Linked DNA regions of Homo sapiens: region 2 is linked to region 1. The links come from fine-mapping of genetic effects on gene expression. Tissue or cell type: cerebellar hemisphere. Region 1 holds a variant in brackets; the other region holds the start of a gene. All regions are shown on one strand. Distances are from middle to middle.

Region 1 (8,101 bases):
ACGTGAACTTTTGTGTCCAGCTTCTTGCAGCAGAAAGTTTTCAAGCTCCAGCCATGTAGCAGGAATCAGTATTTTATTTCATTTTATGGCTGAATAATACATATTCTGTTGTGTGGCTAGACCACGATTTGCTCATCCATTCATCCGCGATGGACATCGGGCCAGAAGGAGATTCTTAAAGCATTCATTTGGTGAAGTCTCTTCTGCTCAGAACCTTCCAGGGGCTTAGCAAGATCTACAGGCCTCTTTGTGGCCCAGCCCTGGGGCCCCGGGGACTCCTCTGCACCACCCCACCCTCATCCTTTTTGGCTCCACGCCCTGCTTGCCATCTTCCACCTCACCACACTCTGTCCTGCCTCAGTTTCCCACCTGCCTTCTCACTGCCCAGGCTGAGCATCTCTGTCTGTTTCCCATGACTGGGCTGTACTTATCCTTCCAGTCCATGTTGGAACGTCACTTCCATGGGGACACCCTCCTCAGCCTCCTAGTCACGCCACGTCAGCCACATGCAATGACCGTGGGCCCCATTAGACCCATTCAAGGACGGCACATGGGGCTGAGTTATCCTCCCATTCTCGCCTCTGCAGCCTGAGCTCCTCAAGGGCAGTGCCAAGTCTGATTGGTCTTGGCAACCCCCACAGTACACAGCAACCCTGCCAGGGCGCCTGGCACGGAGGAGGTGCTCACTGCAGGCTGTGCGGACTCCTGGAGGGGCGTGTGTGTGTGGTGCGTGAGGAAGTGCCAGGTAGCAGTGCTGTATCATGGGTAGTGCTGTTTCTGCTTGGCATGGAATAGCAAGTTGGCATCTGGTACAAACTAGTAACTTCTTATCCAGTTGGCCCAAGCACAGAATTGGTCTATACCCATACCAGAGGATGTGACATATTTTTATTTAAAAAAAAATCAATAAATCATTTGTGGGACTGTCACCAGTAACGATGTGACTGAATTAACCTCTCATCTGCCATGAGGGTGATCTTTTTGTTACTTGATCTTAAGTAACTCACAGAATCTGGGGCACCTGTCAAGCAGGACCTTTGGGCCAGGGGTTGATCTCTAAGCCACTGGAGGGCAGGACTCTCAGGGAACCCTCAGGTGCCCACCAGCCCCTGCTTCTCTGGGCACTCGATGTGAAAGGTCCAGGCTGAGGAGCGGTGGTCCCTGATCCCAGGACAAATCCCCCCTGGTGGTGGCCCTTTGGGTCTGAAATCCCCGCTCTGAGCTGATGTGGTTGCATGGATGCTGCTGAACAAACCCGAGGGGGCTGCTGCTGACGCGATGGGCTTCTGGTGAACTCCTGAGGGAACAGCTTAGCTAGGGGCAGCTGGGCTGCACCATCAACACCTTCTCCTGAACATTGGCCCCCTTGATCCCCGACTGACCCAGATCTTCTGTATCCCCGGGCCCAGCCACCCGGCCTGGCCTGGTCCCACTCCCCAGCACAGGACACCTCCGCACCTTTGTATAGGCTGGGCTCCTGGCCTGGAGTGCCCCATCTGCACAAGCCCCTCTCCCTTGGGAGGCCTTCTAGAACGTTCCGACCCTCCACTCCTTTCTTGAGCCCGAGGAGTGCTTGTGCTTGGGTGTGCGTGGTGTAGCCCAGCCCGATAGCTCCTGCTCAGCCTGTCCCGTGTGTCTGCAGCCAGGGTTTGGAGGATGTGGCGCTGGGCGCATGCTTCCCTCGGCTGCCCCTCCCTCCCTGCCCTGGCGGGGTGTGGGGTGCCCATGCCAGAGAGTGACTGAAGGCGTCCCCACCATGCTCACTCCCTGTGAGCTGCCCTGCAGGGGCCAACTTATCCCAGAAACAGGCTGTCCCCCAAACCACACGTTGTTGACTTTGAAGCACGGTGCATGTTTTGGCAGCAGATTCACCTTCTTAATTATGTCTCTCGGCTGCTATTTCAACCAGCGTGTGCTCCGAGCATGTGCCAGCCTCCACAACGTCTGCGTCCCCCACAGGACGGCTCTGCATTGTCCCCTCCCATGGCTCCTTGTCGTCGCGGGGCTGGCGATGCCGAAGCCACCCTACCAGGCTCCCTGTCTCGGCTCTCCTTCCCCATCGCTGCCTGGCTCTGCGCTGACCACGGGGGGAGCCCCGACCACCCCAGCCTCTCATCTAAGGCCCCACTGTCAGGCTTAGCCTCAGCAGCCTGTGGCTGCCTCCCTCACCTCACCATTCCCTTGGCGGGGTATTCTTTGGGGACACCCGACATGCCTGGCTTGTTGCAGCTTCTGTGCTTTTTCTTTTTTGAGACAGGGTCCTGCTCTGTCGCCCAGGCTGGAGTGCAGTGGTGCAATCACAGCTCACTGCAGCCTCGACCTCCTGCGCTCAGGTGATCCTCCAGCTTCAGCTACCCAAGTAGCTGGAACTACAGGCGTGTGCCACCATGTCTGACTAATGTTTGTATTTTTTGTAGAGACAGGGTCTCACCATGTCACCCAGGCTCATCGCAAGCCTGTGCTTCGGTTTCTTTTGATCCTTCTCTCTTGATGTCCTTGGCTTCCAAAAGGATTCTGTGGTTCCGAGGGCCCCTGAAGGCCCCCTGTGGCAGGAGTTTCCCCACCACTCCCCAGGGCATCTCCCATCTGCACGCCTCTCGGCCGGAGCTTCCTGTGCCCTGTGCCCCTGGATGGGTGCTCTTTGCAGGTAGGGGTGGTGCACGAGTGACCCTCAACTTCCAGCCTCTGAGCACTGCATGGCAGCTGGTGGGCGGGCAGGATCTGCTGGGCTGGGTTGTCCTGGGTCTTGCACTTGTTGTCCATGGTCTTGCTGAGGGTCCATGTGTGACCCTTGTTTCTCTATGTGGAAGTACATGAGAAGCACAAACGCAGGGCAGGGGATCACAGGCGAGTGGGATTCCTCCTGCGACTGCCCCGAGCCACATGTCTGCATACTCAGACCTGCCTACAGGTACCTGGACAGCTCTGGAAGGTGCTCACAGGTGCACTGCGGGGAGAATCTCGGGGAAGGAACAGTATGGGGGACTGGGGTGCAGGTGAAGGAGGCTCTCACTTTTTAATATCAAGCCTGCTTTCGTGTAGTATTTGTATAGCTGTAAAATAATATTGTTAAAAATAACATCCTCATTTAAATACTTTTTTCTTTTTCTTTTTTTTTTTTTTTTTTGAGATGGAGTCTTGCTCTGTCGCCCAGGCTAGAGTGCAGTGGTATGATCTCAGCTTACTGCAACCTCTGC[C/T]TCCCGGGTTCAAACGATTCTCCTGCCTCAGCCTCCTGAGTACCTGGGATTACAGGCGCGCATCACCATGCCCAGCTAATTTTTGTATTTTTAGTAGAGACACTGTTTCGCCATGTTGGCTAGGCTGGTCTCGAACTCCTGACCTCAGGTGATCCACCTGTCTCAGCCTCCCAAAGTGCTGGGATTACAGGAGTGAACCACCATGCCCAGCCTAAAGACATCTTTTAATAGGTTAAATAATAGAAAGTCCTTTTAGGAAATGCCACTGCTCTCTGTCCCCTGTGCTCCGTGACTTGCCCACCTGCCTGGGGTGTGGGTGGGAGGCTGGCCCGGACCCCTGCCTGGAGGCCTCCGTGTCCTCAGCCCCAGCTGCGTGCATTTCTTCATGCGTCCCCTGCACACAGGATGCACCGTACCACGTGCCCGGCTGTGGGCTGCGTGTGTGGTAGGGATGTGCAGGTCCCCGGGTGGCGAGGGGGGTTCTGAGTTCCCGGGAGGACATGGACAGGGAAGGAGATGCAGGAGAGACACACACAGGGCCTGTGGGGATTCCAGGGCCAGAGCTGTCAAGCTCGGCGGCTGGAGCTGAAGATGGGGCGGGCTGTGCGGCGCTGGTGACGGGCACCGTGGCCTGGCTGGGGTGCTCAGGTACCAGCTGCTTCTCCTGGCTGGGTCTGGCTCGGTCTCAGCACGTGGCCAAGCCGGCAGCACAAGCACAGGCCTTGGTCTTGGCTGGGAGCAGGGCTGGCCCTGCCAGGCACCAGATCAGAGCCAGGAGCGCGCTGGCAAGCCCCGCGGGACATATTGTGCATCAGCTACCACGGCAGCCCTTCCCAGACGGGCCTCTGCTCGCCTGGGGAGATGGTGGCAGAATGCGGAGGTGCCCAGCCCTGGCCACTGCCCCACCCCTGCACTCTGACCTGCCAGTCCCAGAAATGTCCTCTCAGAGCCCTGGAGTCAGCGGGCGCTTTCTGGGGAGCTTTGCCTTCTCCCCTCTCCCCATCTGTCCCTGACTATTGGAGTCAGTGCTTGTGTTTGAGCCCCCGAATCAAATAGCTTTGCAATTTGTCAAATTATGCAGAAGAGACAGAGGAGAGGAAAGGGAAGTAGTTTGGTTCTATTATGTGGAAATTAGCTTTGAAACAGAGGCCGTTTGCCTGTTAGAGCAATTTCTCTCCATTTATTTCTAGAGAAAATTGCCTGTGTGGCTCACATCCTCATCTGGTGGGGCTGGCTGTCTCCCAGGCCACTAGGCATGGGGGCTGGAGGCCTGCACCAGCCCTGAGGGCGTCTCCATCCTGGCCAGGGAATGGAAGGGAGACCAGGAGGCTTCATGCTGCTGCCCCTGGCCCTGGGGCAGGAGGGGAGGGGGCAGGCTCCGGCTCACTGCCCAGCCCCCATCTACCTCTGAGACATGTCTTGGTGGCTCTTGGAAGGCCAGGTCCCCAGCTCCCTAGAGGATGGGCCTGGCCAAGCCTCCTGGATGGGGGTGGGAGGCCCTGCCTGAGCCTGACCTTGGCGGGAGAGTGCTGCAGGTGATGCTGGGATGGGTGGGAGGGGACTCCAGGAGGAGGGACCAGCTGAAGGCACCACAAGGCCCTGTGTTTGGGAAAGGGCAGAAGTCAGGCAAGACCTAGAAGTGGCAATCCCAACTGCATTTTCTATCCTTCCAGGTGGAGCTGCCACCTGTCTGCAGATCCCAGCCCGGCCAGCCAGCTCTACTGCAGGGCGCACTGGGGTGTCTCGGGGAGACTGGCAGAGTGATGGCTGCAGGCTGCTGCCCTTCACGGAGCCTCCTGTGGCCACACTCGTGGGGTGCCCGTATCTGCTGCCTGGGGGTCCCTGCACGAGCCCTCTGGGAGGCATGCGGGCTCCAGGGTTCCAGTGGGGAGCTTGTAGTGTGGTGAGGGGGGACCTGCTAGGGCCATGCACCACTGGAGGGCAGCAGCCCCCCACCCCTGCAACCCTGTCTGCTGCTCCGGAGCTCCGAGCAAAGTGTACACCTGGGCATCCTGAAGGAGACTCAAAGCCAGGACGCTCGGGTGGGGTCTGAGTGCAACATCACACTTGGCCGTGGCTGAGGGGAGAGGGCAGCCCTTTTGTGCTATTATCATATTGTTTTGGGGAAATTGCTTTTTATGAAATAAATTTTACATAAAGTGAAATGTGCAGATCTTAAGGGTACAACCTGATGAGTTTTGACAAATACACACACATAACCAACACCCAACCAAGTTGTTTTGAGCTTTATCTGTGTAGTTTATCCATTTTATCTTTGAAGGGTATTCCATTTTATAAATATAAAATCTATTTATGCTTTTTCCTGCCAGTGTACCTTTGGGTAGTTTCCAGTTTTTGACTATTATAAATACAGTTGCTATAAACATTCTTGTGCAAGTATTTTTGGGGTACAAATGTTTCTATTTCCTTTGGATAAATAGCTAGGAGGGCCATAGGACAGGTGGAGGTTTAATTATGTAAGAGATTGCCAAGCAGTTTTCTAAGTGGCAGCACCGTTTTGTACCCTCACCTGCAGTATAGGCGAGTTCCGGCTTCTGCATATCCACACTGACATTTAGTATTGTCAACCCGATGGGCAAAAAACTACTTCCTGGAGATTTTCGTATCTATTTCCTGATGATTAATGATGTTACACATCTTTTCATGTGCTTATCCAGCATTTATGTGTCTTCTTTTATGAAGCATCTTTTAATTGGATTTTTTATTATTGATTTGTAAGAACTCTTTATATATTTTGGATAAGTGGATTGTCTTTTTATTGTTGATTTGTAAGAACTCTCAATATATTCTGGATATAAGATGTATGTGTGTGTGAGTGTGTATATATATGTGTATATGTGTGTGCATATATATATACATATATATTAATAGAGTTAGAGAAAATATATGTGTGTGTATATATACACATATATATACACACACATATATTTTTTTCCCTAATTTTATGAAATACCTTTTTGTTTTTTGACAATGTCTTGATGACCTGAAATTTTAAATGTTGATTAATTTCTGCTTGTTGTTTTTTCTTTATTGGCCAGAGCCTTTTGTGTCCTCTCTAAAGAGTCTTTGTTTACCTCAATGTTGCAGATTTTCTCCTGTGTGTTCTAGGTATTTCCTGGTCCATATTTTAGATTTAGATCTGTGGTTTATCTTAAATTAATTTTCATGTATGGTGTGAGGAAGGGGTTGGGGTTTATTTCCCCCATAAATGTATCCAGTTGCTCCAACATCATTTGTCAAAGAGACTTTCTTTCTTTATTGAATTTCCTTGCAGCCTTTGCTAAAAATCGATGGGAAATGTATTTATGGGTCTAGTTCTTGTCTCTACATTTTCTTCCATTATCTAAGTGTCTATTTCTTCGCCAGTATCTCACTGCCCTGATTACTGGGCTTTGCAGCATCCTGAAATCAGATCGTATTAGTCCAACGGTGCTCTTTATCCAGGATCATGTTTCTTTTCCAGGTCTTTGCACTTGCAAATGCATTTTAGAATCAATCAATCAATTTCCGTCAAAAAGCTCATTGGAATTATTATGAAGATCACATTCGGTCTACTGATCATTTTGGGGTGGCTGAACAACATCCTAGCCATAGAGAGTCTGCCCATCCATGAACTTGGTATACTTCTCCATTCATTCAGCTCTTCTTTAATTTCTCTCAGCAATACTGTTGCAGTTTAGGGGATAGATCTGGACCTGGTGCTGTCAGAGTTAGGGAATGATATGGGCAGAGCATTTGACTGTAATCTGGGAAGCAAGGACTGGTGCCCACCTGCAGGCCTGTGGGGACTCTGGGCAGCAAGGCAGCCTCTCAGCTTCTGCCCAGGCAGCAGCCACAGCTCACTGTGATGCCAGGTATGCACACTTCCAGGGGGCCCATTGTCCTTCCACCCACCTTCTAGTCCACACTCAGGAACGTTCTAAGCCATCCCTGTCGGGTGGGGCAGGAGAGGGGAGAATCCAGACCTCACAGGAGCCCCAAACCCTGATATCTCCAAAGTGCCCTTTTGCCAGCCCTGGTCTCTGCTTTTGTGTCCTGGGTTTGGCTACATGTTGACAAAGATGCTCACTCGGAAAGTTGAGCAAGACCAGCTCTCATCTGTTGTTATGGTTACGAGGCAGGAAAAACAATTTCCTGTGAGTATCTTCTGATCACTCCTGTCGGATGCTGGAGCAGATTAGGCCAGGCACCATGGTGATGGCTTCTCTGGTTCTGTGGGGGACCATGTGACATTCATTTTGACCTCACACATGGGGTTGCAGTCTGCCGGCTCAGTCAGGGGAGATAGACGGATCTCATTAAGAACCATCAGAGGATCACTTTGCTGGTTTTATTGCAGTTGCAAAATTGCCTTTACCTCACTCTCTCCCAAATGCCAGATTACAAACATCACAAGAGATCAAGAAGCCTGGGTGGGCCCAGGAACGCACTGAGTGCACGCCAGTGGGCAGTGACCAATCACCAAACCCAAGGGAGTCCACATGGCGAGCTGTCTCCTTGCTACATGGGGCCTGCCTACTCACAGCTGGGAGCCCCTCCAGCACCAGGAGGCCCAGGTCTCCCCGAAAAGAGAACACACTCTCTGCAGGGGCAACTTCCACCTCCCCACCGACCCAGGCCCCCCAGTTGCAGAGCTGCAGAATGGCAGAATTGGGCCCCCCAGTTACAGAGCTCCCCAGAGCTGCAGAACGGCAGAGGGAGGCAGCAGGGAGACAGACCCATAAGTCTGGTCTTGGAGAAAGGGGTGGCTGCAGCCAGGTGGAGCAGCAGGCTGGGCCATTTCCTGGTCACAGAATCTTCTATCCCAGCCCCATGGCAACCTGGGGGCAATCTCCCCCTCCGCTCTCTCCTGAGGGAGAATCTCCCCCTCTGCTTGTTCTCCA
Region 2 (8,101 bases), 590 kb after region 1:
AGAGACGGGGTTTCACCATGTTGGCTAGGAAGGTCTCAATCTCCTGACCTCATGATCCGCCCGCCTCGGCCTCCCAAAATGCTGGGATCATAGGCGTGAGCCACCGCGCCTGGCCTGTTTTTCTAGGATGTTGCTGTTACCGTGTGCTGTCATCCTTTGTTGATGTCACAATGAATACGATTTTAAGTGGAAGATGCTTTTCAAAAACATTTTCTGGGGGGCATTTTCTATATTCTTTGATCTTTTGGGCTACTAGCTAATCCTTCTGAGTTTTGATTTTTTTTTTAATTGCAATCCAAAGATACTCTCTTGATGCTTCTTTGGAAATTTGCCAATTTGGAAAGTTGCCATAGTGTTTCCTGACCAAACACTAGTTAACATTCTGAATCATCACAGACTGAATGGCTTTGAGCACCTTTCATTTGATTCAGTAGTTCTCGGTGCTCCCAACTCACTTGGTCAAGTTCACCTTGCATTGCTGTCCAAAGTTCAGAGTTAAAAGAAACAGCTTGGGCTGGGCGCGGTGGCTCACGACTGTAATCCCAGCACTTTGGGAGGCTGAGGTGGGCAGATCGTGAGGTCAGGAGTTCAAGACCAGCCTGACCAACATGATGAAACCCCATCTCTACTAAAAATACAAAAATTAGCTGGGTGTAGTGGCGCGCACCTGTAATCCCAGCTACTCGGGAGGCTGAGGCAGGAGAATCGCTCGAACCCAGGAGGTGCAGGTTGCAGTGAGCCAAGATCGCACCACTGCACTCCAGCCTGGGCGGCAGAGCAAGACTCTGTCTCAAAAAAGAAAAAAGAAACAAGAAACAGCTTGACATCAGATAGATCTTCATGGACTTGTCACATCTAGGCCAGAACACATGGGAAGGCCACTGAACCCCTAGTGAGCCATGGTATTTTGGGAAGGTTTTGCATATTTGCATTCACTGAGCATTTGAGCGTCCACCAAAAAGGGGAAACTAACAGCTGAGAGCAGTTACAAATGGTGTTGGTGCCATTCAGCAGCACTCTCCTCAAAGCAGAGGAAGCTGTGCTCGAAGTAGCTTGCTGTCTTCTCCAGCCTTCCTACCACAAGATGCAACATTCTGCACTTTGAATAAATCTGCTGGAGTGGCCCTTTCCTTAAACATTTAGGTTTTTTTGGCCGGGCGCAGTGGCTCACACCGGTAATCCCAGCACTTTGGGGGGCTAAGGCGGGCGGATCACGAGGTCAGGAGATCGACACCATCCTGGCTAACTCGGTGAAAAACCATCTCTACTAAAAATACAAAAAATTAGCCTGGCGTGGTGGCGGGCGCCTGTAGTCCCAGCTACTTGGGAGGCTGAGGCAGGAGAATGGCGTGAACCCGGGAGGCAGAGCTTGCAGTGAGCCAAGATCACGCCACTGTGCTCCAGCCTGGGCGACAGAGCAAGACTCTATCTCAAAAAAAAAAAAAAAAAAAAAAGAAACATTTGGTTGTTTTTTTTTTTTAAGATGTGCGTTTCTTAGGGTGTTTTGGATTTGAAACTAAAGACATTAAAACTCTCTTGGTCTGAGCACAGTGGCTCACGCCTGTAATTCTGACACTTTGAGAGGTCAAGGTGGGAGGATCACTTGAGGCCAGCAGTTCAAGACCAGCCTGGGCAACATAGCAAAGTCTATTGATCTCAAGTCTAGTTGGAAGTTCAGAAGCTCTGTCTTGAAGCAGCTCTCCATGATGTTCTTCCTTAAGTTTTTCCTAAATGCTTGTTCTCGTCCTCAGCAGTGTTATAAGTCATTATAAATCTAAAACTCTAAAACATTTTTACTATAGGACAGTGGTTCTCAAACCTGGTTCTGTCTCAGAACCCCTTTACACTCTTAAAAGTTGCTGAGGACCCTAAAGAGATTTTGTTTATGTGGGTTATGTCTATCAGGGATTACAACTGAGAAATGTTTTTACTTATTTATTTTAAAATGATAAACCCGTTTGATGTTAAACAGTGTATTTTTCTAAAACGTCACTATGTTTTCCAAAAAACATTGTGTGTGTGTGTGTGTGTGTGTGTGTGTGTGAGAGGAATAACACTTTTACATTTTCAAAGATCGCACCACTGCACTCCAGCCTGGGCGACACAGCAAGACTCCATCTCAAAAAAGAAAAAAAATGATTTTAACTGGATCTTGAGCCTTTTATTATTTTATCTTGACACATCTGAGCTCGTTTTCCTTGTGCCTGAATAATGAACATTTATTTTACTGTGGATCTGCTTGTGATTATTTCAGTCCTAGCTGCACCATTTTATAAACCCCCCACCATTTCACAGACCCTGGTCGGAGTGAAACATTCCATGGGGGCTCTGACCATAAGAAACATCCTGCCCAACTGCCTGACTGCGGGAACATCCTTATCACATCCTGCCAGGCAGCAAGCCATACTGCCCAGACCCATCCAGCCCAGACCTATAATTACCCCAGCCTGGAAGCGGCAGTGAGCTCGGGCACTAAACTGGTTATCCGCTCCACGGGTTTTTGCTGGCAATAAACCTGTGTTGCTGTTGAAGCCACCATCTCTCTCCCCTCTCCCCTCCCCCCCTCCCTCTGTGTGTGTGTGTCTGTCTTGTCTGTCTTTAACCCTTGCCTTCCCTTCAAAACCTAATAATTTCCTCTTTTTTTTTTTCCTTTAAAGATGGGATCTTAATACATTGGCCAGGCTGGTCTCAAAATTCTGGGCTCAAGCAGTCCTCCCAAAGTGCTGGGATTACAAGCATGAGCCACCATGCCTAGCACGATTTCCTCTTAGTTTGTCCTTAACTGTCTTTATTTTACCTTCTTTTCTGAATGCCAATTTCCCTGTGTATAGAATTCCCTGTGTATAGAATTCTTGATTGGTGGTTACTTTCTTTGAGATTTTATCTTTATCTTTTCTATGGCTTTATTGTGAGATTTCAAGGTATTGATTTATTTTTATTTATCTGCCTGCTTGGTTTCTGTAAGGCTTTTTGTTTGTTTTTTGTTTTTTGTTTTTGTTTTTGAGACGGAGTCTTGCTCTGTTTCCCTGGCTGGAGTGCAGTGGCGCCATCTCTGCTCACTGCAAGCTCCGCCTCCCGGGCTCACGCCATTCTCTCACTCAGCCTCCGGAGTAGCTGGGACTACAGGCACCCACCACCACACCCAGCTAATTTTTTTGTATTTTTGGTAGAGACGGGGTTTCACCGTGTTAGCCAGGATGGTGTGGTGATCCGCCCGCCTTGGCCTCCTAAAGTGCTGGGATTACAGGCGTAAGCCACCGCGCCTGGCCTCTGTAAGGCTTTTTGAATCTTTGGCATGATTTTTTTCTCATCACTTTTGGAAAATTCTCAGCCATTAGCTCTTCAGATATTTCTGCCTCACCTCTTTAATTTCCTTCTAAGATACCAATTACCCATATGATTGGTATCTTTCCTGCTGTATCCCTCTTATTTTCTGAATGGCTTCTTCGATCTTGCAGTTTATTCTTTAACTGTCTAATCTGCCAAATCCATCCAATTTTTTGTTTTGTTTGTTTGAGACAGAGTCTCGCTCTGTCGCCCAAGCTGGAATACAGTGGCGCCATCTCAGCTCACTGCAGCCTCCACCTCCAGGGTTCAAGCGATTCTCCTGCCTCAGCCTCCCAAGTACCTGGAATTACAGGTGCGCACCACCACCACACCCAGCTAATTTTTGTATTTTTAGTAGAGAAGGGGTTTCACCATGTTAGCCAGGCTGGTCTCAAACTCCTGAACTCAAGCAGTTTGCCTGCTTTGGCCTCCCAAAGTGCTAAGATTACAGATTACAGGCCTCCCAAAGTGCTGAGCCACTGCGCCCAGCCTCCATCCAATTTTTATTTGGCTTTTTTTTTTTTTTTTTTTTTTTTGAGATGGCGTTTCACTCTTGTCGCCCAGGCTGGAGTGCAAAGATCTCGGCTCACTGCAACCCCTGCCCTCCGGGTTCAAGTGATTCTCCTGCCCCAGCTTCCTGAGCAGTTGGGATTACAGGCGCCCACCACCAAGCCCGGCTAATTTTTGTATTTTTAGTAGAGATGGGGTTTCGCCATGTCGGCCAGGCTGGTCTTGAACTCCTGACCTCAGGTGATCCGCTCGCTAAATTTTTTTCTTTTATGATTTCTAGTTCTCTACTGGAAAATATTTCTGAAAAAAAAAATATATATATATATATATATTTTTAAGACTATTAAGCCCAGTGTCTGGAGCCCCTGTGGAAGTTTTATATTATCTGCTGAGAAGAATATGCACAGAATACAGACATAAAAATATGCAGAGCAGGCCGGGCGCGGTGGCTCAAGCCTGTAATCCCAGCACTTTGGGAGGCTGAGGCAGGTGGATCACCTGAGGTCAGGAGTTCAAGACCAGCCTGGCCAACATGGTGAAACCCCGTCTTTGCTAAAAATACAAAAACTAGCTGGGCTTGGTGACCAGCGCCTGTAATCCCAGCTATTCAGGAAGCTGAGGCACGAGAACCGCTTGAACCCGGGAGGCGGAGGTTGCAGTGAGCCGAGATCGCGCCACTGCACTGCAGCGTGGGCGACAGAGTGAGACTCCGTCTCCAAATATATATATTTTATACATGCAGAGCTAAATAATTAACAATAGAAAGGGACAAGACACACCACTGAAATGGGAGACTTGACTTAGTCTTTAACGTCACAGTAAAGAGGGTCCCTTTTCTTAGGTTAACCAACCCTCCCGGTATGTCTAGAACTTTCCTAGTTTCAGCGTTGAAGGTCCCGCGTCCCAGGAAACCCATCAGTCGTGGGAAGATGTGGAGGATTAGCCAGCCCACAGTGACACACGCGGGCACACCCCTAACGCACCCTCTCCCCGCCCCTTCTTGCCTGCGACACCAGGCGGCCGCCGGGGGCGCTGTGGTGCGGAGGCGCCGCTGGGGAGGCACTCTGGCCTTGCGGCGTCTCTGCTGCTTCCGCCTTCCCGGCATCCCCTGCGCGCGCCTGCGCGCTCGGTGACCTTTCCGAGTTGGCTGCAGATTTGTGGTGCGTTCTGAGCCGTCTGTCCTGCGCCAAGGTGAGTACGGGGACCTGGACCTGGCTCCCGAGGTGCGAGACGGCGGGGGCGGGAGGGCGAGAAGCCGCCTTGGCCCCAGCTGATCTTGGGGTTCCACCCCTCCGCCGGCACGCGCCTGCTTTTCTGCCCGGCTTTCCCTTCTCTGAAGGGAGGTAGGCCAGGGTCGGTTGCCAGAGGGAAGCATCGCCTAGGCCTGCGCCGCGTTTCCCTCCTTGGCCTTAACGCGCTCAGTGCACCTGAATTCTCCCACGGTTTTGACAGGGAGCGTACCTTGGCCTTGAGAGGTTCAGCTGCCTAACCCAGAGGCTACGCAGAGTTAGAGAAGCCAGAGTCCAAGCCAAGAACTCTGACTCCACATCCAGTCCCTTCTCTCCTTTATAACTCAAGTTTCCTTGCGCCACACTGCCCTCCACGTTATGCTGTACATGACAACTTGGGTGAGGCAACAGGGAAGCTGAAAAGAGATCATACGGTGCTGAATGAAATTGTATGGAACTCGCGGGTCAGACATTTCCCATTTCCAGTGTCAGGTAATAGTTCGCCCTTAATGTAATGTGCCAAAACTTTGCAGACTTAAGTGGATACAGTAGACACACGTTTGGCCTATGAATAAGATGGATTTTTAAAAGGTCTGGTGCTGTAAAACTGACACACACAGCTAGGAAATGTGCCTGGGCAGAATGGACTCAAGAAAGGGGCCGGCCGGGCGCGGTGGTTCACGCCTGTAATCCCAGCCCTTTGGGAGGCTGAGGCGGGCGGATCACGAGGTCAAGAGATCGAGACCATCCTTACCAACATGGTGAAACGCCGTCTCTACTAAAAATACAAAAATTAGCTGGGTGTGGTGGCAGGCACCTGTAGTCCCAGCTACTCGGGAGGCTGAGGCAGGAGAATCGCTTGCACTCGGTAGGCGGAGGTTGCAGTGAGCCGAGATCGCGCCATTGCATTCCAGCCTGATGACCGAGTGAAACTCCGTCTTAAAAAAAAAAAAAAAAAAAAAAGTAGGGGCTGTCGTTTTATTATGTGTTGGGAATATGTAGCTGGGCGCGGTGGCTCACGCCTGTAATCCCAGCACTTTGGGAGGCCGAGGCGGGCGGATCACGAGGTCAAGAGATCGAGACCATCCTGACTAACACGGTGAAACCCCGTCTTTACCAAAAATACAAAAAATTAGCCCAGTGTGGTGGCACGCGCCTGTAGTCCCAGCTTCCCAGCTACTCAGGAGGCTGAGGCAGGACAATCGCTTGAACCCTGGAGGCGGAGGTTGCAGTGAGCCGAGATCGCGTCACTGCATTCCAGCCTGGGTGACAAAGCGAGACTGTCTCAAAAAAAAAAAAAAAGTAGGGGCCGGACGCGGTGGTTCACGCCTGTAATCCCAGCCCTTTGGGAGGCTGAGGCGGGCGGATCACGAGGTTAAGAGACCGAGACCATCCTGGCCAACATGGTGAAACCCCGTTTCTACTAAAAATACAAAAATTAGCTGGGTGTGGTGGCGGCCTCTTGTAGTCCCAGCTACTCGGGAGGCTGAGGCAGGAGAATCGCTTGCACCCGGGAGGCGGAGGTTGCAGTGAGCCGCGATCGCACCATTGCACTCCAGCCTGATGACCAACTGAAACTCTGTCTAAAAAAAAAAAGGGGGGGCCCTCGTTTTATTATGTATTGGGAACATGTCACTTGTCCAGGCAAATATGGCAACTGAAGTCAAGGGGAAAGGAAGGGAAAGGTATTTGCAAGCTACTGAATAGCAGGCCCCTGTTGCACTGGGGACTAAGGGTAATTTTGTAAGGAGACCATACCAGGGTGCCTGGGCCCGGAGCACAATGTCAGCATGACTCAGTTTCTTTAGTCCCTTCTTACCGTAGTCATTGTACCCTCCCAGTTTACTTTGCCCTTTTCCTTATAGACCCTCATCTTACCTTGTTCTGTCCAAAGCCCCTACCTGGCCTAAATGAGGGCGTCTTTTTAAGCCTTCCTTCTTGTTAGAGTCCCAGTGGCTTAGTATTAATTATAGCCATGAACTGGATATTTGTATCAATTCTGTTACTGCTGTGATCAGTCACTGAATTCTTTTTTTTTTTTTTTTTTTAAGATAAAGGGGGAGTGTCTTGTTGCCCAGGCTGGAGTGCAGTGGCACGATCTTGGCTCACTGCAAGCTCCGCCTCCCGGGTTCAAGCGATTCTCCTGCCTCAGCCTCCCGAGTAGCTGGGATTACAGGCGCCCACCACCATGCCCAGCTAGTTTTTGTATTTTTAGTAGAGATGGTTTCGCCATGTTAGCCAGGCTGGTCTCAAACTACTGACCTTAAGTGATCCGCCCACCTTGGCCTCCCGAGATGCTGGGATTATAGGCGTAAGCCACCGTGCCCAGTCCATTCTCTGGATTTTTATTCCGTACCAGGCACTAGGCACTAGGCTGGGTCCTTTAGGTTTCTCCTTTGTTTTTGTTTTTGAGATGGAGTCTCGCTCTGTCACCCAGGCTGGAGTGCAGTGGTGCAATCTTGGCTCACTGCAAGCTCCGCCTCCCGGGTTCACGCCATTCTCCTGCCTCGGCCTTCCGAGTAGCTGGGACTACAGGCGCCCGCCACCACGCCCGGCTAATTTTTTGTATTTTTAGTAGAGACGGGGTTTCACCGTGTTAGCCAGGATGGTCTTGATCTCCTGACCTCTTGATCTCCCTGCCTTGGACCCCCAAAGTGCTGGAATTACAGGCGTGAGCTACCGCTCCCGGCCTTGGTTTCCTCTTTGAATTGCATTGACAGCCCTCTGGGGGCAGGTGGAGGTATCCCTGTTTCACAGAAAAAGAAACCTCTGGGTTGAGCCTGGTGGCCCACGCCTGTAATCCCTGCACTTTGGGAGGCCGAGGCGGGCAGAACACAAGGTCAGGAGATCGAGACCATCCTGACTAACACAGTGAAACCAAGTCTCTACTAAAAATACAAAAAATTAGCCAGGCGTGGTGGCGGGCACCTGTAGTCCCAGCTACTCGGGAGGCTGAGGCAGGAGAATGGTGTGAACCCGGGAGGCGGAGCTTGCAATGAGCCGAGATCCGCCACTGCACTCCAGCCTGGGTGACA

What was found. PIP is the estimated chance that this variant, and not a neighbour inherited with it, causes the effect.
Region 2: it holds the start of ATP5MJ, and the variant in region 1 is fine-mapped to the expression of ATP5MJ in cerebellar hemisphere (GTEx, PIP 0.96).

Annotation. Positions count from the first base shown.
Region 1 is chr14:104,506,883-104,514,983 of GRCh38, reverse strand. No RefSeq gene overlaps it. Among named protein-coding and RNA genes, the nearest start is that of C14orf180, 69 kb to the left of the region's middle. The variant C/T (reference allele first, on the strand shown) is at 3,198.
Region 2 is chr14:103,918,397-103,926,497 of GRCh38, reverse strand. ATP5MJ (ATP synthase membrane subunit j) reads left to right here and starts at 4,969. Exons shown (of 4, transcript NM_004894.3): 1 at 4,969-5,028. RefSeq lists silencers at 4,776-4,945, 4,832-5,004 and an enhancer at 4,639-5,314.